Linked DNA regions of Homo sapiens. The protein of the gene in region 3 interacts with the protein of the main gene of each other region in a biochemical or structural test. Each region holds a gene or a part of one and is shown on either strand. Other genes may lie near its edges.

Region 1 (5,637 bases), about 11 Mb from region 3:
GATATAAGAGGGTGAAAGTAGACGTGCTCCGGCAAATCAGGTGAGCGGAGATGCCTCAGGCAGGCCTACGCCCTGCTTGTTCTGGGATGCGTGATCTCTGCGTGGCTGGCTCAGTTGTGCCAGGGCTTGGGTGAGGGTTACTTCTTCCCTCCTGCTGCCTACTGTGTTTTAGCAGAGTCTGATAGAAACAAACTCGATTACTCGCTTAGCCAAACTGAGCTAGAAGGCCTGTATTGTGGAAGAATCCCCAGCATCATCCTTCAAAAGTGAAGCTGGGCCAGGCGTGGTGGCCTGCTGCAAATCCCAGCGCTTTGGGAGGGTCACTTGAGTGCAGGAGTTCAAGACCAGACCGGGCAGTATAGCGAGACCTCATCTCTACAACATCAACAAAAAAGGAAAAAAGTGAAGCAGGCTCCTTTTTAGGAATTTGTCATAGGAAGTCCCTCTGAGGTCAGGCTTGCAGCAGGGTCGGCTGGCTGTGTTTGGGTGTGCTGTGAGCCGTGGCCTCCTGCAAAGTACGAACCCTCTGCTTTGCTGCATCCCAGGTTATGGGCGTCACTGTACAAAGATGAATACTGGCTTGGAGTGGAGTCAGCCTTCATGTCCACATTAAACTTGTTCCTTTCTTGCCTTCCCAGGTCTGACTTTGTCACCCTGCCGTTTCAGGGAGCAGAAGTCCTTCTGGACAGTGTGATGCCCCTGTCAGGTAACAGCTGAGGCCTTTGGCTTGGGGGATTGTTGGGGACAGTTGTTGAGAGTAGGTCTTTCTCAGAGCCTCCGTTCTCACCTGGAGGATTTATGCTAACATAAGTTGCTACCACTCAAGAGTTTCTGACTGAATAGGTCTGGGCTTAGGCCCAGGAACTTACATTGCTATCAAGTTCCCAGGTGAGACCAGTGCTGCTGATCCTTTGAGATCCACTGCTCTAGACTGTACTCAGACCTCAGGCATCAAGGGGCTTCCAACAAAGGCACTTTCCAGATTATAGTCCAGACCCAGAGTCTTAGCCCCGGTGGTTGAGGGCGTGCTGGTCACTGATACTGCTCAGCCAGGCCATAGCTCCATAGGGCACAGTGGGGACACCCTATCTGGTGTCTTAGACTATGAAAGCATTGTCAGAGGGAAGAGGACTGGCAAAATCTTGGGTAAATGACTTAGCCTCAATTTTCACCCCAGAACATGGGAATGGTACCTGTCTTTGATGCTGGCTGTGAGAATTACATAAACCTAAGATCTGGTGTGTAGAGGGTGGCGAAATGGCAGCTGTTTATGGCTAGGAATTTTATATTTGTAGGTGATAGTTCATCCCATCCCACTCCCTCCCCAGGTTTGCCCCTTCTGATCTCCTTCTTGCTTGTCTTAAGCGATTTGCATGCGTTAGAAATACTACAGTCTAGCTGGAGTCGGCTTAGAGGGAGCACTGGGGCAAGATCTTTGTTTTGCTTCTTTTATTGCTGTTGCCCCTCCTTCCTCTCTGCTTCTGTCCATCTAAGCGATCTGTCCAGACCCAGCTGAAACTTTCTCCTTCGTAAGATTTTCCCGGATCTTCCTTGGTAAACCCCTGTCTCTCCCATCCTTGCCACTGCTTGCCTTGGGTATGGTGTTCTATGTAACTTTTGTAATCCAGCAAAGCTGAATGCTGCCGCAGCGCCTTGCCCACTCTGAGTGGCTGGCCTTATTGGGCTGTGTGGCCAACTGCCTGGGTTTGATTCCCACCTTCACCACTTGGGAGCTGGTTGACCTTCAGGAATCCACCTTTGCCTCAGTGTTCTCTCCTGTAAAGTGGGGATAGCACTTGGTGTTACTAATTTTGTGGAAGAACACATATGCTCTGCACTGCCAGCATCCGAGTTGGTGGGGGTGGGGGTGGTGCTGCTGCTGGTGGTATTGGTGGTGGTGTTAGTGGTGAAGTTTCTGTCCATCTGTTGTCTGTGCTGCACCAGTGGGCAACATGCAGTAGCGGCCCTTAGTTTATCCACTGGGAGTCATATGGAGGCCTAGGCTCTGTCTCTGACCTGGGTGGATCTCCCCAGTGCAGTTCTCAAGTTCCACAGCATCTGAAGCATTCTACTTGGAATGCACCTGAAACTTGTGTACATGACAAGGGTGCCTTGCCTCAGTGAGAGCCTAAATGCCGCTTTTCCTTTTCCTCCTGAAGACGATGACCAGTTTTCACCGGAAGCAGATGCCGCCATGAGCGAGATGACGGGGAATACAGCACTGCTTGCTCAGGTGTGTGGTTGGCAGGGGTGGGGGAGGCAGGCTGGCTGGGTTCTTGGGAACTGACCTTTCAATGCCTTCTTTCCTGTGGCTTGGCCCTGGATTGACCAGCAGTATTTAAGGAAAGGTGCATGAAGTAGCTAATACTTGATATTAGTCTGTTCTCACATTGCTGTAAAGAAATACCTGGGACTGAATAATCTATAAAGGAAAGAGGTGTAATTGACTCACAATTCTGCGGGCCTGGGGAGACCTCAGGAAACTTACAATCATGGCAGAAAGGGAAGAGGCACGTCTTACATGATGGGCAGGCAAGAGACAGTATGTGAAGGAGGAACTGTCAGATACTTATAAAACCATCAGATCTCATGAGAACTCACTATGACGAGAACAGCATGGGCACACCGCCTCATGATCCAATCACCTCCCACCAGGTCTCTCCCTCGACACATGGGGATTATGGAGATGACAATTCAAGATGATATTTGAGTGGGGACACAAAACCTAACCATATTATTCTTTCCACCCCCCTTCTTCAGGTGACAAGTTACAGTCCAACTGGTCTTCCTCTGATTCAGCTGTGGAGTGTGGTTGGAGATGAAGTAAGTTCTGCCCTTCTTTTCCTTCTGTGTTGCTGGCCCGAAGTAATGGATTGATTAGGAGCTGGTCCTGGGATTTGTTTCCTCTTGAGTTAATCAGAGGATATAACTGTAGACAAGCACCTCCTAGGGAACACTTTGGATGTCCTGATTGGCAGTGGTGATGTCAGTGTCCTCTAGTGGGTAGAGGCCAAGGATGCCACTAAACATCCCATAGTATTCAGGACAGCCCCCCACAGCAAATAATTATCCAACCGCAAATGTCAATAGCGCCAAGGTGGAGAAACCCTGTGCGAGACTTTCTGGGACCTTCTGTCTGTTGAGTTTTTCTGTCCTCTATCTTATGGTATGAAAGCTTAGATTTCTTCAGCATATTAAAAAGCCTATCCTGGCCAGGTACAGTGGCTCACCCCTGTAATCCCAGCACTTTGGGAGGCCGAGACGGGCAGATCACTTGAGGTCAGGAGTTTGAGACCAGCCTGGCCAACATGGCGAAACCCCCATCTCTACTAAAAATGCAAAAATCTGCTGGGTGTGGTGATGCACACCTGTGATCCCAGCTGCTTGGGAGGCTGAGGCAGGAGAATCACTTGAACCTGGGAGACGGAGGTTGCAGTGAACCAACATTGTGCCACTGCACTCCAGCCTGGGTGACAGAGCAAGACTCTGTCTCAAAAAACAAAAACAAAAACAAAAAAACCCTATCCTTATGCCACAGCAGCCAACAGAATACTTAAATAAATGTTCCTGTTGGCTAGAGCATAAGCCATGTCCCCCACCCTGTTACTCTTTTTTTTTTTTTTTTTTTTGAGACAGTCTTGCTCTTGTTATCCAGGCTGGAGTGCAGTGGCGTGATCTTGGCTCACTGTAACCTCCGCCTCCGGGGTTCAAGCGATTCTGCTTCAGCCTCAGTAACTGGGATTACAGGTGCCTGCCACCACACCTGGCTAATTTTTGTATGTTTAATAGAGACGGGGTTTCACCATGTTGGCCAGGCTGGTCTCGAACTCCTGACCTCAGGTGATCCACCTGCCTCAGCCTCCCAAAATGCTAGGATTACAGGCATGAGCCACTGCGTCTGGCCTACACTGTTACTCTCATACATCTGTTGCCTGCAGTGGCAACCGGGGAGGGGAGAACTCATGTTGGCTAGGGAGATGGCCCCAGGATGCCATGGACAAAAGCTTTAAGGGAACTTTCTTTTCTAGGTGGTGTTGATAAACCGGTCCCTGGTGGAGCGAGGCCTTGCCCAGTGGGTAGACAGCTACTACACAAGCCTTTGACCCCCATGCTGCTTCCTGAGAGTCTTTTTTTGCACTGTTGAAATTGGGCTTGGCACTCAAGTCAAAGATGAACATCGGAATAACAAACATTGTCCTCTCCAGAAAGTCCTTTCTTTCTCCATACTGTAGTCCTATTGAGAAGACATTTCGTCTCTGAGAAAAAAGGATGGAACTATGGGTTCTCTTCGCAAAGCCAAAGGATAGTGTTTAACAAGCCAGCTGGCTTATGCTGGTTCTCAGCTGTTTAAAAAAAAAAAAAAAAAGGAATAGAAACAGTTTCAACCAGATTGTCCTATTCCCCCTGTTCCATTCCCCTCTTCTTCCTTCTATCTCCTTCCCCGGCAAAAACCAAACAAACTGGCAGACAGGCCAGGGATGTATGTTGCTTGCTTGAGAGGGTTTCTTTTACTTCAAAATCTTTCTTCAGGGAGCAAGACATGAACTGACTAATTGGTATCCACTACTTGTACAGCTTACATAAATGAGTTGATGATATTTAACCAGTTTTTATAAACTTCATTTAGGTCTCTAAACACAGACTTTTTAAATTGCAACTGTAAATATGAAATGGTCATCACATCTGACCTTGGTCAGTGGGGAGGGGAACTGGTATCCTGCCAAGCCTGGTTGTAATTTGTAACCATTTTCTATTTGTGCAAACTCTGTAAATATGTGTTTAAACAAATGTAATATTTTGTACAAGATACACTGGAGAACAAAGGGAACTCAAGATTCTTCCAGCCACATGTCACCTGTAGGTAGAAGTAAACTCTGCAGTGCAGCTTCTGCTCTTGGCCCCTCTGGCCAGGGCCCCTGTGGCTTCCTGCACACTGGACAGGTGACTGTATGGTAGAGACTGTGATCTGGGAACTTTTTGCTGTACAAATCTGTTTAAAAAAAAAAAAAAGTAACTCATTGAATTAACTTGCAGTGGTGTGTTTGATTCTTTTTTAGACTGGCTTCAGCATTGTGCAGTTTAAAAATAAGTAAGTAACTTACATAAATCTTCAATTGTATGAACTGCAGCTTTGAGTCCATTTTTTTCCAGTGGTGAAGAATTGGCGGGGGGGGGGTGGTGAGTGTGGCGAGCTGGATCACAGGCCCCACACAACTGCCTCTGCAGGAGACCCATGGTTTTTTGAAGACAATTTGGCCAGAAATTTCTATCTGGCCTTTTCCTCTCTCTCCTTGTCCCACCAGGTGGCAGCCAAGCGTCCTCCGACTTCTTCACTGCATGTTAACTGGCCAGACTCAGTTTAAAGCACTGGCTTCCAAAACGGGTTGTGCCTTCTTTGGTTGTCATTCTTAATAGATTCGTGAAGTTATTTAATTTACTGTAGTGATAAGAATGATGTAAAAAATACATGTAAGTTATGGGATGAGATACTGCCTCAATTTAATAGCCCCTGCTCTTAAAGAAGGCTGGCCACTGCAGCCCAGGCCTACCCCAGTGCCCCGCCCCTGCCCCCTACGTTTGAGGCCTCTGGCTGCAGGGCTGTTGAGCTTGAGCTCTAGTTTTTAGAGAGCTGACGTA
Region 2 (7,038 bases), on a different chromosome or scaffold from region 3:
TGGGGGTACAGTGGGTCCTGCCAGGGCTGCATAGCTGAAGGTTGGAGTGTCAGACTGGAGGCTCTTGGGTGAGATAGGAGATGAAAGCTCCTTCTCTGCAGATGTGTTTCGGCCGGCAGCTGCCTCCTTGGTTGAGAGGCATGGGGGCCAATCCCCAGCTGCTCCAAGTGGAGGCTCTCTAGTGGGGCATGCAGGGCCAAGCCCAGTAAGCATCATCTGCTCATAGATGTCTGCATACTGAAAGCTTCTCTCATCAGGATAGGGTGTGGGCTCTCTCTGCTCCGGCTCAGTCTGCTCAGGCTCCGTGGTGGCATGGCTTTTGCTGGCCTCTGGTACCTTTGAGCTGTGTGAGCTTTTGTCAGGAGCCTCAGCCCTACCTTCTTCTTCCCTTTCCCCTTCAGCCTTGCGGTAGTCCTTCCCCAGGGGGGAGTATGGCCCACCTTCCAACTCAGCTGCCCCCTCCTGCACTGCAGCCACCACACTGTCATACTCGGCTGTGCCCCAAGAGAAGGGTGCAGGAGTATGGGATTCCGGGGCAGGTGTGGGGGGACCAGGAGCTGGGGAGAGGGGTGCAGGGGGGAGGGGTCTGTCCTTGGGCACCCAGGGTGGGATGTCAGCCAGCCATGAGGGAGTAGTGGGTTCATTCTTCATGTGTGGCATGAGCTTAGGGTCTGGGATAGGACTCTCTTGTCCTGGGGCTGAAGGAACCCTTTGTCCAACCATCTCAGGTGGGGAAGCTGGAGGGGAGATGATCTCAAAGGGAGAGCGGGTCAGTTTGTCCTCTTCCTCTGGTGGCAACCCAACTGGTGATTCAGCAAGCCAGCGCTCCACCTCTAGCCCCTTCTGTGGTGAGGATTCCTGGAAATCCTTGAAGTCTGAGGCCCAGGGGCTCCGGGTTGCGTGTTCCCGCAGGGGTACTTCTTGCTCATCATCTGGGCCCTCATCTAGGAAAGTGCTTTCCCGTTCCTCAGTGTAGTGTGGGCGGGCCCCCTGGCCATCCAGCTCGTGAGGGAACCAGACCTTCCGCTCACAGCTTAGCTCCCTCCAGTATGTGTCCTGTTCCAAGGCCACATCCTCTCTGCCCCTCCAATACCTATTGTCCTGCTCAGGAGATGTGTCCTCCCATGCCGGGGCAAGCTCTTTCTGTTCTCCAGCCGGCTCCTCTCTGGTAGGAGATGTTTCTTGCCACTCCTGGACCACATCCTGCCCCCTCCAGTACTTTTCTTCCTGCTCTCTGGCCCTGCCCTCCTGCACTAGGCTCTCTTCCAGGCCCAGAGCTTTGGTCTTCTCCAGAAGAGCTTCTAACTTCTCTTCCATGGCCTTGACCTTTTCTGGGGATTTTTCCTCTAGCATCTTTGGTTTCCTGGTTTTATCCTCCTGCACTAGGCTCTCCTGCTCCTGAGTTTGGTGGTTCTCTTCCAGAGCCTGAATGTTTTGTTCCAGGGCTTCATCCTTCTGTCCCAAAGCCCAGTATTTTTGTTCTAAGGCCTGATCCTTCTTTTCTGAGACTTTATCCTTTTGTTCCTGGGCCTGGTGTTTCTGTTCAGGGGCTTTGTCTGTCTGTTCTAGGTCTCTGTCCTTCATTTCAGCGACCGTGTCCTCCGGAGCCTTATGTTCAACACTTCTGACTTTTTGATCTAAGGCTTTGTCTTTCTCTTCTGGGATCTTCTCCTTCTGTTCTAGGACCCTGTCCTTTTGTTCCAAGTCTTTATCTTTTGGTTCCAGGGCCTTGTCCTTCTGTTCCAGGGCTGTATCCTTTTGTTCTAAGGCTTTGTCTTTCTCTTCTGGAATCTTATCCTTCTGTTCCAGGGCCTTGTCTTTTTCTTCTAAGTCTTTGTCTTTTGGTTCCAGGGCCTTGTCCTTCTGTTCTAGGGCTGTGTCTTTTTGCTCTAAGTCTCTGCCCTTTTGTTCTAAAGCCTTATCCTGCTGTTTCACAGCCTCATTCTTTACATGCAGAGCCTCATCTTTCTGATAGATGGCTGTATCCTTCGGCTCTACCACCTCCTTGTGCTCCAGAGTTTTGTCTTTCTGCTGTAAAACTTCATCCTTTGGCTCAGGTTCCTTCTTCTGTTCTGAGGTTCTGTCTTTCAACCCTGGAACTTTATCTTCCCACTTTATGGCAATGTCCTCCAAGGCAGGGCCTGGCAAAGACTCAGGACTCTTGGAGAAGGAGCTATCAGGTGTCAGAATGTGTTCATCAGGGCTTGTGATCGCCCCAGGTAAGTACTTCCCATTTCCTGAAGGTGTAGAGTGAGAGAATGAGCTGGCAGGTGACTTCCTGTCAAGGCTGTCATCTGTGATGTCTGTCTGTGCAGAGTATCGAGTTGTCCCATCTGTGGGAGGTGACGCTGTGGCTGCATGGGGCTCTGGAACAGACATGGGAGCTGTGTGGTGAGAGGTATCCTCGGCCTGCATCAGATGCCCCATTTCTTCCTTCCCAAGGTTTAGTTCCCCAAACTGGAGGGTGCCAAGGCTTTCTGGAGAGAGCTGCTTAGAAGAGACATCCAGGGAGGTCTCCTTGCTGGGACTCTCTTCTGACAGAGAAAGTGACTGGGTGTCTTCTGGAGATACCTCTGGCCAACGGTCTTTGTGTAGGTACTGTTCTGTCAGGCCACAGGGAGACTTGGGGGTAGGCTCTTGGTTGGCAGTGTCTGGGGAGGGCACGCTGAGGACAGAGAGGGATTCTGCATCTTCAGGAGAGAGGCTTCGGTCAGGATATCTGAGCACCTCATCTTTCTGAGGTTTGCCAGGTTCTTGGGGTAAAGTCCTCAAACCTCCGGGAAGGGCTTCTGCTCCCAGAATTGGGCCTGTGGGCTCTCCTGCCTCCATAATCTCAAAGACTATTGCTTTATCCTGTGCTGGCAACAGTTGAATGGTACAGCCTGTAAGCCCCTCATCAATGTTGACAGGTGCTTCCTGGGCCTGGGGGCTCCTGGGAGGAGGAACTTTCTCTTCCTTCTCTAGTGTGCCCTCTTCAGGCCCTGGCTTGACTGTCTCCTCAGCAGCATCTTCTTTGCCCACACCTGGTGTGCGCTTAGTGTCTCCCCAGGAGTCTGCCTCCTGAAAGTCTTGGGGCTCAGACTTTTCTTCCACTGGGGACTGATGAAAGGGTGTGTGGGTGGCACTGGGTGGGCCAGATGGTGGAGGAGAAGCCATCTTCACTGTGCTGTCATCTGGGCTAAGGCACCGCTCCTCTGCTTCTCCAAGGGCTGGTTCTCCTGGATGTAGGGCATGCCCAGGGGCACTAAACACTGGAGTTCCATATTGACTGCAAAGTTTCTCAGACATCTCTACGTTTGCTGTCTCCTCCTCTTCCTCTTCCACAGCTCTCTCTCCAGACAAGCCTTTCCCTATGATCTCTCCTCTCTTCTCTGACTCCCCAGTCACAGAGAAGTCCTCACAGGGTGGTGATTTGAAGCCCTTGTCTTCTTCCAGTGAGGAGGTGGGTGAGATGGTACCAGCTGATGGCACATAGTCCAAGCCCTGCGTAGCTTCAGTACGGGAGGAAGGGATGCTTGTGACTGTGTCAAGCAGCAGGGAGCTCTTGCCTGTCTCCTCTGTCTGGGGAGCTGTAAGTGAGGCCACAGATTGGTCCTCAGCCACTGATGTGGCAAAGGAAGAAAGTTTGTCACACTCAGTGATTGAAGTGGCCGAGGACACATGTTCCTCTTCAGCCAAAGGGGCAGCCACTATGTTAGTGGGGTAGGTGAGTTCAGTCTCTGGCGTTCCATAGACTTTGCCAGAGGTAGCAGGAACAGCACTATCGGCAGGTTGGCTGGCTTCGAATGGGCCAGCACCTTCAGGCCCGGGCAGGTCATATGTACTTGTATGAAATCTGGGTGGAGCTGGGCGCTCCTCCGGCTCATCATGGATCTCCTCATCTGAGATGGTCTGCTCAGTCTCTGAGTAGCCAGGGATTGTCTCATCCTGGATGTAAGAGACATGCTCAGTGGCTCCTGCAGGTGTGGTCAGGCTGCTTAGGAATAACGAGGTCTCCTTCTCAGGGGCCTTGCCCTGGAGTCCCAATTCCCGACCCCCAAAAGCCTCCCGGCTCCTTGGAGTTACCTTCAAGGGTTCCTGCATATGTTTTTGGTAAAAACCCTCAGCTTTTGTCGCGTCCTCTTCCTCCTCATCTGAAGGGTGTACCTCCTCCATTTCTTCTAACTCAGCCTTTTCTATCACATCCTCCTTTACTTCAGGTTCACTTTCCTCTCTGGCTTCTGTTCTGTCTGGGAGCCTCTCTGCTTCCCTCTGCTTCTTTTCCTCCCAGGTATCTTTCTCTTCCTCTGTTTCAGCCCCAGAGTCTAGGCCTCTGTCCTTGCTGCCTTGTTCCTCAGGGACCTCTGGGACAAGCTCTTTCTCCTTCATCACATGTTCTTCTTGTCCCAGCCCTGGAACAGAGGGTGGTGTTCCCTGGATAGCTGTACTTGGGGGTCCCTCCTCTGCAGTGTCTAGAGGGAATGGCTTATCTCCTAGTCCTGTGTCCCTTTGTTCAGCCAGCAAAGCCCTCTCCTCACGCTTCATCTCCTCAAAGTCCTGTGTGAGGTCCTCTGGTGAGGATAGGACCAGCTCCCTGTGCCCACTGATGGTTGGGAGTGGTACAGTTCCCTTCTGGGCTGGGGGTGTCTGGGGCTCAGAAGACAGCTCCTTCTCCCCACGGATAGCACGGCTCCTGTCTATTTTGACTCTTCCAGGGACCTTGGCTTTATAGAGGGTCTTACGTACCTCAGGAGTAAAGGGCTTTAGGTCTGGCTTGGAAATCTTCTTGAGCTCAGGTTTGGTATCTTTCCTCTTCTCCTCCTTCTTGGCATCCTTCTTCTCCTCCTTCCTTCCTTCATCCTTCTTGAGCTCTTTCCTCTCCTTTTTGATCTCTTTTTTCTCCTTGTCTTTTTTTTCTTCCAGCTTTGATATCTTTTCTTTAAGGTGCTTTTTCCCTACCTTGTCTTTGATCAGCTTTCGCTTCTCTGCCTTCAGTGCCTCACTTGACTCTGTCTTCACCCTCTCAGGCTTGGCAGGCTTCTCTGGGGGCTTCTCAGATGACTCTTTTGCCTTCTTCTCTGTCTTGGCTAACTCCTTGGCCAGCTCTGAACGTGCCTCCTTGGCTCCCTCTTCTACCACCTCCTCCCGTTTGGCCAACTTGCTCACGGCCGTCTTGGTAGTGGCTTTGAGGCTCTCCTTGCTATCAGCCCGCTGTTTGATTTTGCTGGGCTTGAGGTTGGTAGGCACAGCCCCAGAAGCCAGGTCCTTCTGCGTGGCCACAGGGTAACGCAGGAAGTCCAGATGCCGAAGCTTTTCTAGGCCCTCCAAGATCTTGTTTTGGGGAGCATTTCCTGGAAAAAGCACACGCACAATCTTCTCAGTGGGATTGGCTGGTAGCCAGACCACCAGAGCAGTGATAGAGGTAAGGTAGGGCACGGAGATCTCAGCCTCCTTCCCATTGGGCAGCACGATGCCTGTCTTGGCTTTACTATTGCCTGCCCACTTTTGCATGAGGAACTGCATCTCCTTGCTGTCCTTGACAGGGTTGAGGACATACATGTCCAGCCGGCCCACACCCATTTTGTGGAAGAGGGTCAGTGGCTCAATGGTATTGCTGACCACACGATATAGAGGCTCAGCCTGGATGCCCAGGCGGTTTAAGTGCTGCAGAGTGAGGCAGGCCTCCTCAATGCTACGCTTGGCTTTCCGGGAGGCATCAGGAAGCCGCAGCTTCTCAGGCACGTTGAAAAAGACAACTCCAAGCTCAGGAGAGATAAGGTTCTTCACCCAGTCGCTGTAACTGCTAGAGCCCTGGGACTGCTCCTCCTCTAGCTCTGCCACTTTGCGCTGCAGTAGTCCATTGATGCCTGGCAGGTTGTCTGCCCCAATGTGTGTGAGTAGCACCGAGTCAATGCGGTCCAAGTGCCGTACCAGCTTCCAAAAACAGGACTTGCGATCAGAGCCACCATCCACCAGGATGTTGAAACCATTGACAGCAAAGAGGGCAGAGTCCCCACGACCACCTGGGAAGATGTAGCAACAAGGCTTGGAGAGCTTGAGGAAGCCCCCTGAGGTGGGGGGCTCTAGTAGGTCAAATGGGGATGGCACGTCCACAGTCTCAGAGACATACTCGGAGAACTCAGCCACGCCGTCCATGGTGGGCAGAGTGGGCTCAGGGTTTAGCCGGAGGTGCAGGGTCTCTTGGGAACTGGATAATCCCAGGTGGCTCCAATCACCTTCCCCTAAGCAGGACACGGTAAGGAAGGCCTGTATCCCAGGGTCTCTATTGCTGAGCAATTGGGAAATCTAGAAGAATAGGAGATAGAAACCTGATCAGGTCACTAGAGTTGTTTTGGTCTGACTTAGATTCAGTACCCTAATCTTCACCTCTTTCCAAGGTGGACTCTTACCTTTCTGCCAGGGCCCCCCATGGTCATGCAATATGAGACTTTCCCTTAGATCCCTCCCACAGCTCTAGTGCTACCCTTTCTCCCAGACACTCTGGCATGGAACTTACCTCGGGGTTGTGAAGGACCTGGGCAAAGTTTTCATATGAGTAGGTGCCACTCTGTAGGATGAGGTCTCCCCCAGGCTCTAAACTTTGCCCACTCAAGATTAGTAGTTTATAAGCTGATGAGCTGCTAAGAAGATGATGAACCTGGAATGGAAGAAGGGGAGTGGTCACAGATATAGGAAATCCAGGGAAAGGCAATGAATGGCCCCTCAGTACCTCAAGAACATGCTCCCAACTTATGTCCCTCATAACACCTCCAGAGTGGGCTGGAGACAATACGTCAGCTTAGATGGCAGAGAGAGGAATTCTTGGCCTAATAGTGGTAGCACTGGCAAGGGTGGGTATAGCACTTGCACCAGGCCTGTTTGGCAAGGCACAGGCCCTGGCCTTACCTCAGAGCTGATGCTGTCTGCACTGGGATTTACCAGGATGATGGTCTCTAGGATCTCACTCTGGTGGCAAAGGGTCCTCTGGCCTGAGGGAGAGATGTAGGAATTTATATTGAGAATAGGTATAGAAATTGTGGTGCAGGAGAGGAAAGAATG
Region 3 (4,540 bases):
TATAGCAGATACTCTTGCTAAGCGGATCCAAGTGGCAGATTTCTATGAATGTGGCTCCATAGTTGCTAATTGATTTTATTTAAATCAGGGGTCAGGAGACTGTAAAGGGCCAGGTGGTAAGTAAGTTAAGCTTTGTGGACCATAGGGTTTCATTCGCAAAGTCTCAACTCTTGTCATAGTGCAAAAGCAGCCACAAATAATATGTAAATGAATGTATGTGGTATTTCAGTAAAGTTTGATTTGCGAAAGAGACAGTGAGCTTGGATTTAGCCCTTCATCTACAGTTTGCTAACCCAAGTGTGCACCCTTTAAGCACCTTAGCTTGATACGAAGAACCTCGCTAGCAGGAGATGCTGGTAAAATAGAAATTGAAGCTCATGTGGTGACTAACTTTAAAGTCATTTTTTATCATATGCACACATTTGCAAGGTAGTTAAAATTGCATAGGATGTTTAAGGTGCCACCCTGGGTTTGAGAGTGTGTGTTTGTTTAGCTTTTTGGTGATTTTATTATAGGGGTCAGCTGCTGTGCTACAACGTCGGTCAGAAAATGAAGAGTTTGTTGAAGTGGGAAGATTGGGGCCTTCTGATTATTTTGGTATGTATGAATTCCCTCACAATAAATACATGGTTTCTTTAAGTCACCTCTCAGTGAGATATTGTAGTCTTCCATAATTTTGTCTTCTCCTGAATTTTATTTTCTAACTGCAGTCTTTTTTGGCTCTGAGAGGGAAGGTGTGAGATTTTGATCTTTACTCATTTAATGAAATTACTGATTGTCTCATATCTATTGTCTTCTTTCTCAGAAGTGCACTGCTTTAAGGAAATGTTTTTCATAGAAGTTAGCCTGTTACCCATCTTTGCTTTCTCCAGGTGAAATTGCACTACTGATGAATCGTCCTCGTGCTGCCACAGTTGTTGCTCGTGGCCCCTTGAAGTGCGTTAAGCTGGACCGACCTAGATTTGAACGTGTTCTTGGCCCATGCTCAGACATCCTCAAACGAAACATCCAGCAGTACAACAGTTTTGTGTCACTGTCTGTCTGAAATCTGCCTCCTGTGCCTCCCTTTTCTCCTCTCCCCAATCCATGCTTCACTCATGCAAACTGCTTTATTTTCCCTACTTGCAGCGCCAAGTGGCCACTGGCATCGCAGCTTCCTGTCTGTTTATATATTGAAAGTTGCTTTTATTGCACCATTTTCAATTTGGAGCATTAACTAAATGCTCATACACAGTTAAATAAATAGAAAGAGTTCTATGGAGACTTTGCTGTTACTGCTTCTCTTTGTGCAGTGTTAGTATTCACCCTGGGCAGTGAGTGCCATGCTTTTTGGTGAGGGCAGATCCCAGCACCTATTGAATTACCATAGAGTAATGATGTAACAGTGCAAGATTTTTTTTTTAAGTGACATAATTGTCCAGTTATAAGCGTATTTAGACTGTGGCCATATATGCTGTATTTCTTTGTAGAATAAATGGTTTCTCATTAAACTCTAAAGATTAGGGAAAATGGATATAGAAAATCTTAGTATAGTAGAAAGACATCTGCCTGTAATTAAACTAGTTTAAGGGTGGAAAAATGCCCATTTTTGCTAATTATCAATGGGATATGATTGGTTCAGTTTTTTTTTTTCCAGAGTTGTTGTTTGCCAAGCTAATCTGCCTGGTTTTATTTATATCTTGTTATTAATGTTTCTTCTCCAATTCTGAAATACTTTTGAGTATGGCTATCTATACCTGCCTTTTAAGTTTGAAACTAACTCATAGATTGCAAATATTGGTTAGTATTTAACTACATCTGCCTCGGCTCACAAATTCCGATTAGACCTTTATCCAGCTAGTGCCAAATAATTGATCAGATGCTGAATTGAGAATAAGAATTTGAGGTCTACATTCTTGGTTGTTAATTTAGAGCGTTTGGTTAAAGTATGTCCTTCAGCTGACTCCAGTATAATCTCCTCTGCTCATTAAACTGATTCCAGGAGATTGGATTTGCTGTGACTAGATACAGATGGAGCAAATGTCCTAACAGAGAAATAGAGGTGATGCTGCTAAAGGGAGAAATGCCAGGCGGACAAAGTTCAGTGTCGGGAATTTTCCCCGTGACATTCACTGGGGCATGAGATTTTGGAAGAAGTTTTTTACTTTGGTTTAGTCTTTTTTTCCTTCCTTTTTATTCAGCTAGAATTTCTGGTGGGTTGATGGTAGGGTATAATGTGTCTGTGTTGCTTCAAATTGGTCTGAAAGGCTATCCTGCTGAAAGTCCTGCTTTCCTATCTAGCATTTATTTCTCTGGCAAACTTTTCTTTCTTTTCTTTTTTAAAGTAAACTTGTGTATTGAGTCTTAACTGTATTTCAGTATTTTCCAGCCTTATGTGTTACATTATTCCAATGATACCCAACAGTTTATTTTTATTATTTTTTTAAACAAAATTTCACAGTTCTGTAATGTAGGCACTTTTATTTTCATTGTGATTTATATATAAGGTAATGTAGGGTTATATTTGGGAGTGACTGCAAGCATTTTTCCATCTGTGTGCAACTAACTGACTCTGTTATTGATCCCTTCTCCTGCCCTTTCCCAGGTAATTTAAATTGGTCATGGTAGATTTTTTTCATAGATTTGAAAAACTTTTAGGTTGTTACCAAGTATGAAGTATAAATCTGGGGAAGAGGTTTTATTTACATTTTAGGGTGGGTAAGAAAGCCACCTTGTTACAAATTTTTTAATTTCCAAAATAATCTATATTAAATGAGGGTTTCTGATCTGTACTTTGTGTTTAGCTACCTTTTTATATTTAAAAAATTAAAAATGAAAATTACGTTCTTACAAGCTTAAAGCTTGATTTGATCTTTGTTTAAATGCCAAAATGTACTTAAATGAGTTACTTAGAATGCCATAAAATTGCAGTTTCATGTATGTATATAATCATGCTCATGTATATTTAGTTACGTATAATGCTTTCTGAGTGAGTTTTACTCTTAAATCATTTGGTTAAATCATTTGGCTTGCTGTTTACTCCCTTCTGTAGTTTTTAATTAAAAACTTTAAAGATAAGTCTACATTAAACAATGATCACATCTAAAGCTTTATCTTTGTGTAATCTAAGTATATGTGAGAAATCAGAATTGGCATAATTTGTCTTAGTTGATATTCAAGGCTTTAAAAGTCATTATTCCTGGGCTTGGTAAGTGAATTTATGAGATTTACTGCTCTAGAAAGTATAGATGGCCAAAGGACCGTTTTGTATTGCTTCCTGATTACCAGTCTGATTATACCATGTGTGCTAATATACTTTTTTTGTTATAGATTGTCTTAATGGTAGGTCAAGTAATAAAAAGAGATGAAATAATTTAAATTCTTAAATGAATCAGTTTTTCTTCCCTTTCTCCTTTCCGTCTTTCCTCTCTCTGTCCTTCCCCGAAAGTCTACTCGGGTGGGCAAAAATGAAAAGGGGGAAAGTGAATTATGGGATCGGTGTTTTGAAAGAGCAATGTTTATTTTCAGTGCTTTTCAGTTTGTCAAAGAGTGGATCTCAAAATCTTGCTTAAAGGGTAATTGAGATGTAGCAGATTTATTTACTTAGTCATGGAAAGAAAAAAATTCAGTCAAAAGCTAAAGATTTCCTTTTGATTGAAGACAGATTGGTTCTGTGGCCTTGGAACTTTCCCAGACTTAATGGGGAAACATCATTTCTAGATTAGCATACTCTTTGGTTTAAATTTAATATATACATTTAATGTTACTTAGGGATACTTTTATATTTTGCATATATAAAGCCTCATATATAAAGCCTTATTTCTGATGCTCTTAGATTTCTGAGGAGTGAGATGATTAAGTTGTATTCATTAGTGTATTGGTATTTCTTCACATCCAGTGAAATTGGAGATATGTTGTATGTTAGAAGAGCATTCTTTAAATTGTGTTGCTTTGAACATGTGTACCTTTTCTAGATTCAGTAATCCCTTCCCCCCGTCCTCTGGAGTATGAAACCTTTAGAGTCACAATAAAATGTAACTAAAGAAAATTTCTCTGGGTTGACAGTCCTGGTTATAGTTGAATTCTCTCTAAACAGTGGCCCAAGTAGACTCTTTTTTTTGTTTCTTTTATTTTTTAATGATTTAAATATTGACATTTAAAAATTGAAGTAGCATGTCAGTTTTCTTCATACTACTTTATCTCTAACCACAAATAATAGCTGAACCTTTTGTACTTATGTTAGGCCCTGGCAGTGTATGTTTAGATGGGCTAAGACAACATCAAGAAGCAATGGCTAGATAACCATTTAATTTGTCCCCAAAGGTACGTTTTTATCTGTCTATTTGTCTATTTATCGATCTGTCTATCTAAGATGGTCTCACTCTGTCACCCAGGCTAGAGTGAAGTGGCATGATCACTGCAGCCTCTCTGCTTCCCAGATTCAAGTGATTCTTGTACCTCAGCCTCTGGAATAGCTGGGACTACAGATGTGTGCCATCACACCCAGCTAGTTTTTTGTATTTTTAGTAGAGGTGGGGTTTTGCCATGTAGCCTAGGCTGG
Region 4 (7,038 bases), about 49 Mb from region 3:
TATTTTTTCTTCCTAGTACATGGAAAAAGAGGATGCAGTGAATATCTTACAATTCTGGTTGGCAGCAGATAACTTCCAGTCTCAGCTTGCTGCCAAAAAGGGCCAATATGATGGACAGGAGGCACAGAATGATGCCATGATTTTATATGACAAGTGAGTTATATTGATAGATGGATTCAGCAGATACTTATTGAACATTTGATATGTTTTGTGGAAATAAAGATGAATAAACTCAGTCTCTGTTGTCAAGGAGCTCACAGGAGGCAGCATAAAAGCTGCTTTTATATGGTGTTTGTAAAGCTTTGGGGGTTCTTAGAACAAAAGTTTCTGCTGGGAAAGGGGAGGTGTATGTGGGGTAAACAGGATGGCAATGGTGGTGTTCAAGGAGTGTTTCCCAGAAGAGAGATTTTGTTTGGATCCCAAAGAAAGAAGGGAATTTTGCTACCCAGAGAAGGCAGAAAACAACATTCTAGGCAAAGGCATTGGCCCAGAAGCCATGGAAACGTAGGGGAAAGTGGCACTTTCAAGAAACTTGAGTTTAGATAATCAAAGGAGTGGGGAATAAATATGAGGATGCTGGTACTAATTGGAATAGATTGTAAGGGACCTTGAATGCCTATTTATGGGTATATTATACTTTCTGTATAAATCTGCTCAGGCACGTTGTTAATTAGTTTTTTATTAGTTTTCACTGAAAATGAGAGGATGGAAACATCATACAGTAAACAAAATTGAAAATATCTGGTCAGGCAGATGATGAGCTTGTGGCCAGCTCTGTAACGTATGGTATTCTTTTCATTTAACTTTTCTTACTCTGTAAAAAAAGTAATTCGTGGTCGGGCACGGTGGCTCACTCCTGTAATCACAACACTTTGAGAGGCAGAGGCAGGTGAATCGCTTGAGCCCAGGAATTTGAGACCAGCCTGGGCAACATGGCAAAACCCGCCTTTACTAAAAATACAAAAATTAGCTGAGCGTGATGGCGTGCGCCTGTTGTCCTAGCTACTTAGGGGCCTGAGGCAGAAGGATCACCTGAGCCTTGGGAGGTCGAGGCTGCAGTGAGCTGTGATCCACTGTACTCCACCCTGGGCAGGGCAGTAGAGTGAGACCCTGTCTCCAAAAAAAAAAAAAACAACAAAGGTAATTTGTTATTTGTATCCTTAAGCAAATGCTAAAGGGGTAACTTGGGGATAGAGAAAAGTCCACAGATGTTAGGGTTTGAAGACACTAATAGTATCTAGGCCAGTGGTTCCTGAACATTAGTCTGTGGGCTCTTGCTGGGCTGTCTGCATAGGAATCACCTGAGAGCTTATTAAAAATAGGTTTTCAGGCTGGTTGCGGTGGCTCACGCCTATAATCCCAGCACTTTGGGAGGCTGAGGCAGGCGGATTACTTGAGGTCAGGCGTTCAAGACCAGCCTGGCCAACATGGTAAAACCCCGTCTCTACTAAAAATACAAGAATTAGCCAGGCATGATGGCACACACCTGTAATCCCAGCTACTCAGGAGGCTGAGGAAGGAGAATTGCTCGAGCCCGGGAGGTGGAGGTTGCAGTGAGCGGAGATCATGCCACTGCACTCCAGGCTGGCTGACAGAGGGAGACTCTGTCTCAGAAAAAAAAAAAAAAATAGGTTTTCAGTCTGGGTACCGGTGGCTCACACCTGTAATCCCAGCACTTTGGGAGGCCAAGGCAGGCAGATCACTTGAGGTCAGGAGTTTGAGAACTGCCTGGCCAACATAGTGAAACCTTGTCTCTACTAGAAACTACAAAAAATTAACTGGGCATTTTGACGGGTGCCTATAATCCCAGCTACTAGGGAGGCTGAGGCAGGAGAATTGCTTGAACCCGGGAGGCAGAGGACTGCATCTCAAAAAAAAAAAAAAAAAAAAGGTTTCCAGTCCCCCTGTCTCAGAAATTCTGATTCTGCAGGTTTGAGGTGTGACCAGGAATCTTTATTTTTAGAAGACATACCAGATAATTCTGATAAATAGCCAGTTTAGGGATGTAGTCTAATTTTCCTATTTTGCAAGTAAGGAAAATAAGGCCCAGAGAGGTAATGATTTTCTCAAAGTCACAGAACAAGTTAGTGGCAGAATTTGGACTGGAATGCAGTTCTTAATGTTCTGTCCAGTGTTTATTCTGGTACAGTATGTTTGTAGAAGGTATTACGTAAGAAACATTGTTATATAGATGTTGAGATAGGAAGAGTTTACATTTAGAAATTTGGTCTAAAATGCCTGAACATTCAAGTCGTGGAGGAGTATTGACCAACTTACTCAATACAACATAGGAGATTCACATTTTGTTACAAAAATGCTGATTTAAAAGGAGAGTTTTCTTTTTTTTCTTCTTTTTTATTTTTTGAGATGGAGTCTTGCTCTGTCACCCAGGCTAGAGTGCAGTGACACGATCTCAGCTCACTGCAACCTCCACCTCCTGGGTTCAAGCGGTTCTCCTGCCTCAGCCTCCTGAGTAGCTGGGATTACAGGTGGGGGCCACCACGCCCAGCTAATTTTTGTATTTTTAGTAGAGACAGGGTTTCACCATGTTGGCCAGGCCGGTCTTGAACTCCTGACCTCAAGTGATCCACCCACCACTGCCTCCCAAAGTGCTGGGATTATAGGCGTGAGCCACTGTGCCCAGCCTGCTTGTTTTTGTATCATATATATGCATCATCATAATCATGCATTATCAACCTTTGTATTTCTGTCAGGACATAGAAACCATTAGAGTGCTTGGAAGAGAGCCTTTTTTTTTTTCTCGCATTTAATGCTTTTTTTGGTATTCATTTCATAATCAGCTTACCAAAACATTACCTGCATTATACCCCATCAAGGTAGAAATCTTTGTGTTATCAATATTGGTTACTCCCTTTCCACACCGAGTCATCAGTAAGTCCTGTTCTATCCAAATAGGTCATATGCATCTAGCTCACCCCTCAGTGCTGTTTTGTTTTGAATTTGTACATGTTTACTCCTGATGCCTTGTAGTTATGATGATGTGTTCTTATTTTATTCTGTGCATACAAGTTCTCAGCTCGCTTTTTAGGGAAAATGACCATGTCTTCCTTTCCTATAAATTCCTTTCTATCTATCAAGTCCTCAACAGAGAATAGGTACCCATAAATATGTGATTGTTAGTTTCTTTGCCTCAGTTGTAGTCTGATCCTTACAGCTTTTAAACAACAGTAGAGTTCACCGTCAAGAACTAAGGATGGTTGGCAGGCAGATAGAAAGGTAGCAAGTTGACCCAACTATCTCTGGGGAAGTGGGAACAAAGAAAGGTTACATCAGCACTGTCATCACATAGCTCTATAGTTCTAGGCCTGCAGGCTCAATCAAGTAGCCTTGTATAAGATTCTCTGGAGGAGGTGCTGAAAGTTGCTTATACTTGCTATGGAATTTGATTTTACTTCGGATATCTTTTTACCATAGGTACTTCTCCCTCCAAGCCACACATCCTCTTGGATTTGATGATGTTGTACGATTAGAAATTGAATCCAATATCTGCAGGGAAGGTGGGCCACTCCCCAACTGTTTCACAACTCCATTACGTCAGGCCTGGACAACCATGGAGAAGGTAACCCAGAACTTCAAACGTATCAAACTACAAGAAGTTTTATTGGTAGAACTCATAAAATATAAGGTGGGAAAACCAAGCAGAATAGCACAGTGGAAATTGAAGCAGTCCAGCAAAGTGATTAAGAGCAGAGGCCTTGAGTCTGGCCTGGTATGTACAGTCACGTGCCACATAACATTTTAGTCAACAGTGGACTGCGTGTACGATGGTCCTGTACGATTATAATGGATCAAAGCTGGTAGTGCAATAATAACAAAAGTTAGAAAAAATAAATTTTAATAAGTAAAAAAGAAAAAAGAAAAACTAAAAAGATAAAAGAATAACCAAGAACAAAACAAAAAAAATTATAATGGAGCTGAAAAATCTCTGTTGCCTCATATTTACTGTACTATACTTTTAATCATTATTTTAGAGTGCTCCTTCTACTTACTAAGAAAACAGTTAACTGTAAAACAGCTTCAGACAGGTCCTTCAGGAGGTTTCCAGAAGGAGGCATTGTTATCAAAGGAGATGACGGCTCCATGCGTGTTACTGCCCCTGAAGACCTTCCAGTGGGACAAGATGTGGAGGTGAAAGAAAGTGTTATTGATGATCCTGACCCTGTGTAGGCTTAGGCTAATGTGGGTGTTTGTCTTAGTTTTTAACAAACAAATTTAAAAAGAAAAAAAAAATTAAAAATAGAAAAAAGCTTATAAAATAAGGATATAATGAAAATATTTTTGTACAGCTGTATATGTTTGTGTTTTAAGCTGTTATGACAACAGAGTCAAAAAGCTAAAAAAAGTAAAACAGTTAAAAAGTTACAGTAAGCTAATTTATTATTAAAGAAAAAAATTTTAAATAAATTTAGTGTAGCCTAAGTGTACAGTGTAAGTCTACAGTAGTGTACAATAATGTGCTAGGCCTTCACATTCACTTACCACTCACTCGCTGACTCACCCAGAGCAACTTCCAGTCTTGCAAGCTCCATTCATGGTAAGTGCCCTATACAGATGTACCATTTTTTATCTTTTATACTGTATTTTTACTGTGCCTTTTCTGTATTTGTGTTTAAATACACAAATTCTTACCATTGCAATAGTGGCCTACGATATTCATTATAGTAACATGTGATACAGGTTTGTAGCCCAAAAGCAATAGGTTGTACCATATAGCCAAGGGGTGTAGTAGGCCATACCATCTAGGTTTGTATAAGTACACTCTGTGATGTTAGCACAATGGCAAGCAGCCTAACGGAAATTCTGTTTATTGATTGATTGATTGATTGATTGATTGAGACAGAGTTTCACTCCATTGTCCAGGCTGGAGTGCAGTTGCACAGTCTTGGCACACTGCAACTTCTGCCTCCCAGGTTCAACCAATTATCCTGCCTCATCCTCCCAAGTAGCTGGGATTACAGGCAGGCACCACCATACCTGGCTAATTTTTGTATTTTAGTAGAGACAGGGTTTCACCATTTTGGCCAGGCTGTTCTCGAACTCCTGACCTTAAGTGATCTGCCTGCTTTGGCCTCCGAAAGTGCTGGGATTACAGGCATGAGCTACCATGCCTGGGCAGTAACTGAAATTCTCTAATGCCATTTTCCTTATCTGTAAAGTGACGATAATATGCACGTTTACCTCAAAGTTACTTTGATGATTAAAGTAAGGTAATGTATATAAAATACATATTAACATAGTACCTGACACATGGTAAGCATCAAAAAATGTTAACTACTTTTATTACTATTATTATTACGTATTTTTAAATAATTAGAGAGCAGTATCAAAAATTAGCTGGGCGTAGTGGCATGCACCTATAGTTCCAGCTACTCAGGAGGCTGAAGCTGGAGGATTGCATGAGCCTGGGAATTAAAGGCTGCAGTGAGCCGTGTTCATGCCCCTGCACTCCAGCCTTGGTGACAGAGCAAGACCCTGTCTTGAACAATTAAAGAAGGCATTATGCCGCAACGTTAGCTTAGAAATGATCCACATATATCACCAGTAACTGTCAACAGGATTGGAACCCTAGTTTTGGGTATTATGATCACAAGGTATTATTAATAGCTTATTAATAATAAAGCGTTGGCTAGGCACGGCGACTCACATCTGTAATCCCAGCACTTTGGGAGGCCGAGGTGGGTGGATCACCTGAGGTCAGGAGTTTGAGACCAGCCTGACCAACATGGAGAAACCCCATCTCTACTAAAAATACAAAATTAGCCGGGCGTGGTGGTGCATGCCTGTAATCCCAGCTACTTAGGAGGCTGAGGCAGGAAAATCTCTTGAACCCGGGAGGCAGAGGTTGCAGTGAGCTGAGATCGCACCATTGCACTCCAGCCTGGGCAACAAGAGCAAAACTCCGTCTCAAAAATATAATTATAATAAATAAATAAAAGTAAAGTATTGATGTTTGTGAATGATTTATTCTTCTAATGAACTAGAGGAGATTTTTCCAGGAATTTCAGAGCCAGTGAGGTTATGTTGCTTGTATGTGTCATGTGTATCCAGGTGAAAAAACTTAATTAAACGCTATTATATAATACCATACATAAAAACTGAATTTTAGGAATACTGAAGAATGACATATAGAAGTCAAATCATTAAATAGCTAGTAGTAAACAGAATAGAGTGTCAGCTGTTACCCAATGATGATAATATTTTCACGATTAAAATTAAACCTTTTCTGATTTTAAAGGAAAAGTTCAGATCTGTATCATATAAAGAATGTAAATTTTCAGGGTAATAAAATTAAAATGCAGAGAGAAAAATGCAAAAATAGTTCTTACTAGATGTGTGTATGTAAGGAACTTAGACTAATTTTAAGAACACTGTCAAGACCCTGGTAGTTAGGTAGGAAAAAAGACATGAATGATTCATTCAACAAAAACTTTGAGTATTTCTGTGCTAGATGGTAGTGTTACAGTGGTAAACAAAATAAATGTGTTTCTGCTATCCTGGAGCTTAGTCTACAAAAAAGGTACATATTGGCCGGGCACGGTGGCTCACGCCTGTAATCCTAGCACTTTGGAAGATCGAGGCGGGTGGATCACCTGAGGTCAGGAGTTCAAGACCAGCTTGGCCAACATGGCGAAACCCCGTCTCTACTAAAAATACAAAAATTAACTGGGTGTGGTGGCGGACACCTGTAATCCCAGCTACTCGGGAGGCTGAGGCAGGAGAATCACTTGAACCTGGGAGACAGAGGTTCCAGTGAGTCGAGATCATGCCACTGCATTCCAGCCCGGGGGACAAAAGCGAAAATACGTCTCAAAAAAACAAAAACAAACAACAAAGGCACGTATTAAATACGAACATAAATATTTACAAATTATACTGAATAAGTTCTCATGTTTATTATTTGCTTGTCCAGTTACAAACTTTTCCTTCGTAGAATTAGAAATATAAATAATAAACATGAGAACTCATTCAGTATAATTAATAATTATTAAATGTAAATAAAAACATCTATGTACAATT

The links.
Region 1: the proteins of PRKAR1A (region 3) and AKAP1 form a complex in vitro, tested with the Homo sapiens proteins (one study listed by BioGRID).
Region 2: of the proteins of PRKAR1A (region 3) and MAP1A, one has a biochemical effect on the other in vitro, tested with the Homo sapiens proteins (one study listed by BioGRID).
Region 4: the proteins of PRKAR1A (region 3) and AKAP10 form a complex in vitro, tested with the Homo sapiens proteins (one study listed by BioGRID).

The regions. Positions count from the first base shown.
Region 1 is NC_000017.11:57,116,222-57,121,858, forward strand, and holds the end of AKAP1 (A-kinase anchor protein 1, mitochondrial precursor), read left to right. Parts: coding exon 1-40; intron 41-638; coding exon 639-706; intron 707-2,159; coding exon 2,160-2,233; intron 2,234-2,760; coding exon 2,761-2,823; intron 2,824-4,028; coding exon 4,029-4,103; 3' UTR 4,104-5,123; downstream 5,124-5,637.
Region 2 is NC_000015.10:43,520,571-43,527,608, reverse strand, and holds part of MAP1A (microtubule-associated protein 1A), read right to left. Parts: intron 6,969-7,038; coding exon of another isoform or gene 6,886-6,968; intron 6,638-6,885; coding exon of another isoform or gene 6,497-6,637; intron 6,286-6,496; coding exon of another isoform or gene 6,136-6,285; coding exon 1-6,135. UniProt on the Homo sapiens protein: Structural protein involved in the filamentous cross-bridging between microtubules and other skeletal elements.
Region 3 is NC_000017.11:68,529,405-68,533,944, forward strand, and holds the end of PRKAR1A (cAMP-dependent protein kinase type I-alpha regulatory subunit), read left to right. Parts: intron 1-515; coding exon 516-597; intron 598-872; coding exon 873-1,045; 3' UTR 1,046-4,027; downstream 4,028-4,540. UniProt on the Homo sapiens protein: Regulatory subunit of the cAMP-dependent protein kinases involved in cAMP signaling in cells.
Region 4 is NC_000017.11:19,932,828-19,939,865, reverse strand, and holds part of AKAP10 (A-kinase anchor protein 10, mitochondrial isoform 1 precursor), read left to right. Parts: intron 1-16; coding exon 17-153; exon of another isoform or gene 154-236; intron 237-3,435; coding exon 3,436-3,580; intron 3,581-7,038. UniProt on the Homo sapiens protein: Differentially targeted protein that binds to type I and II regulatory subunits of protein kinase A and anchors them to the mitochondria or the plasma membrane.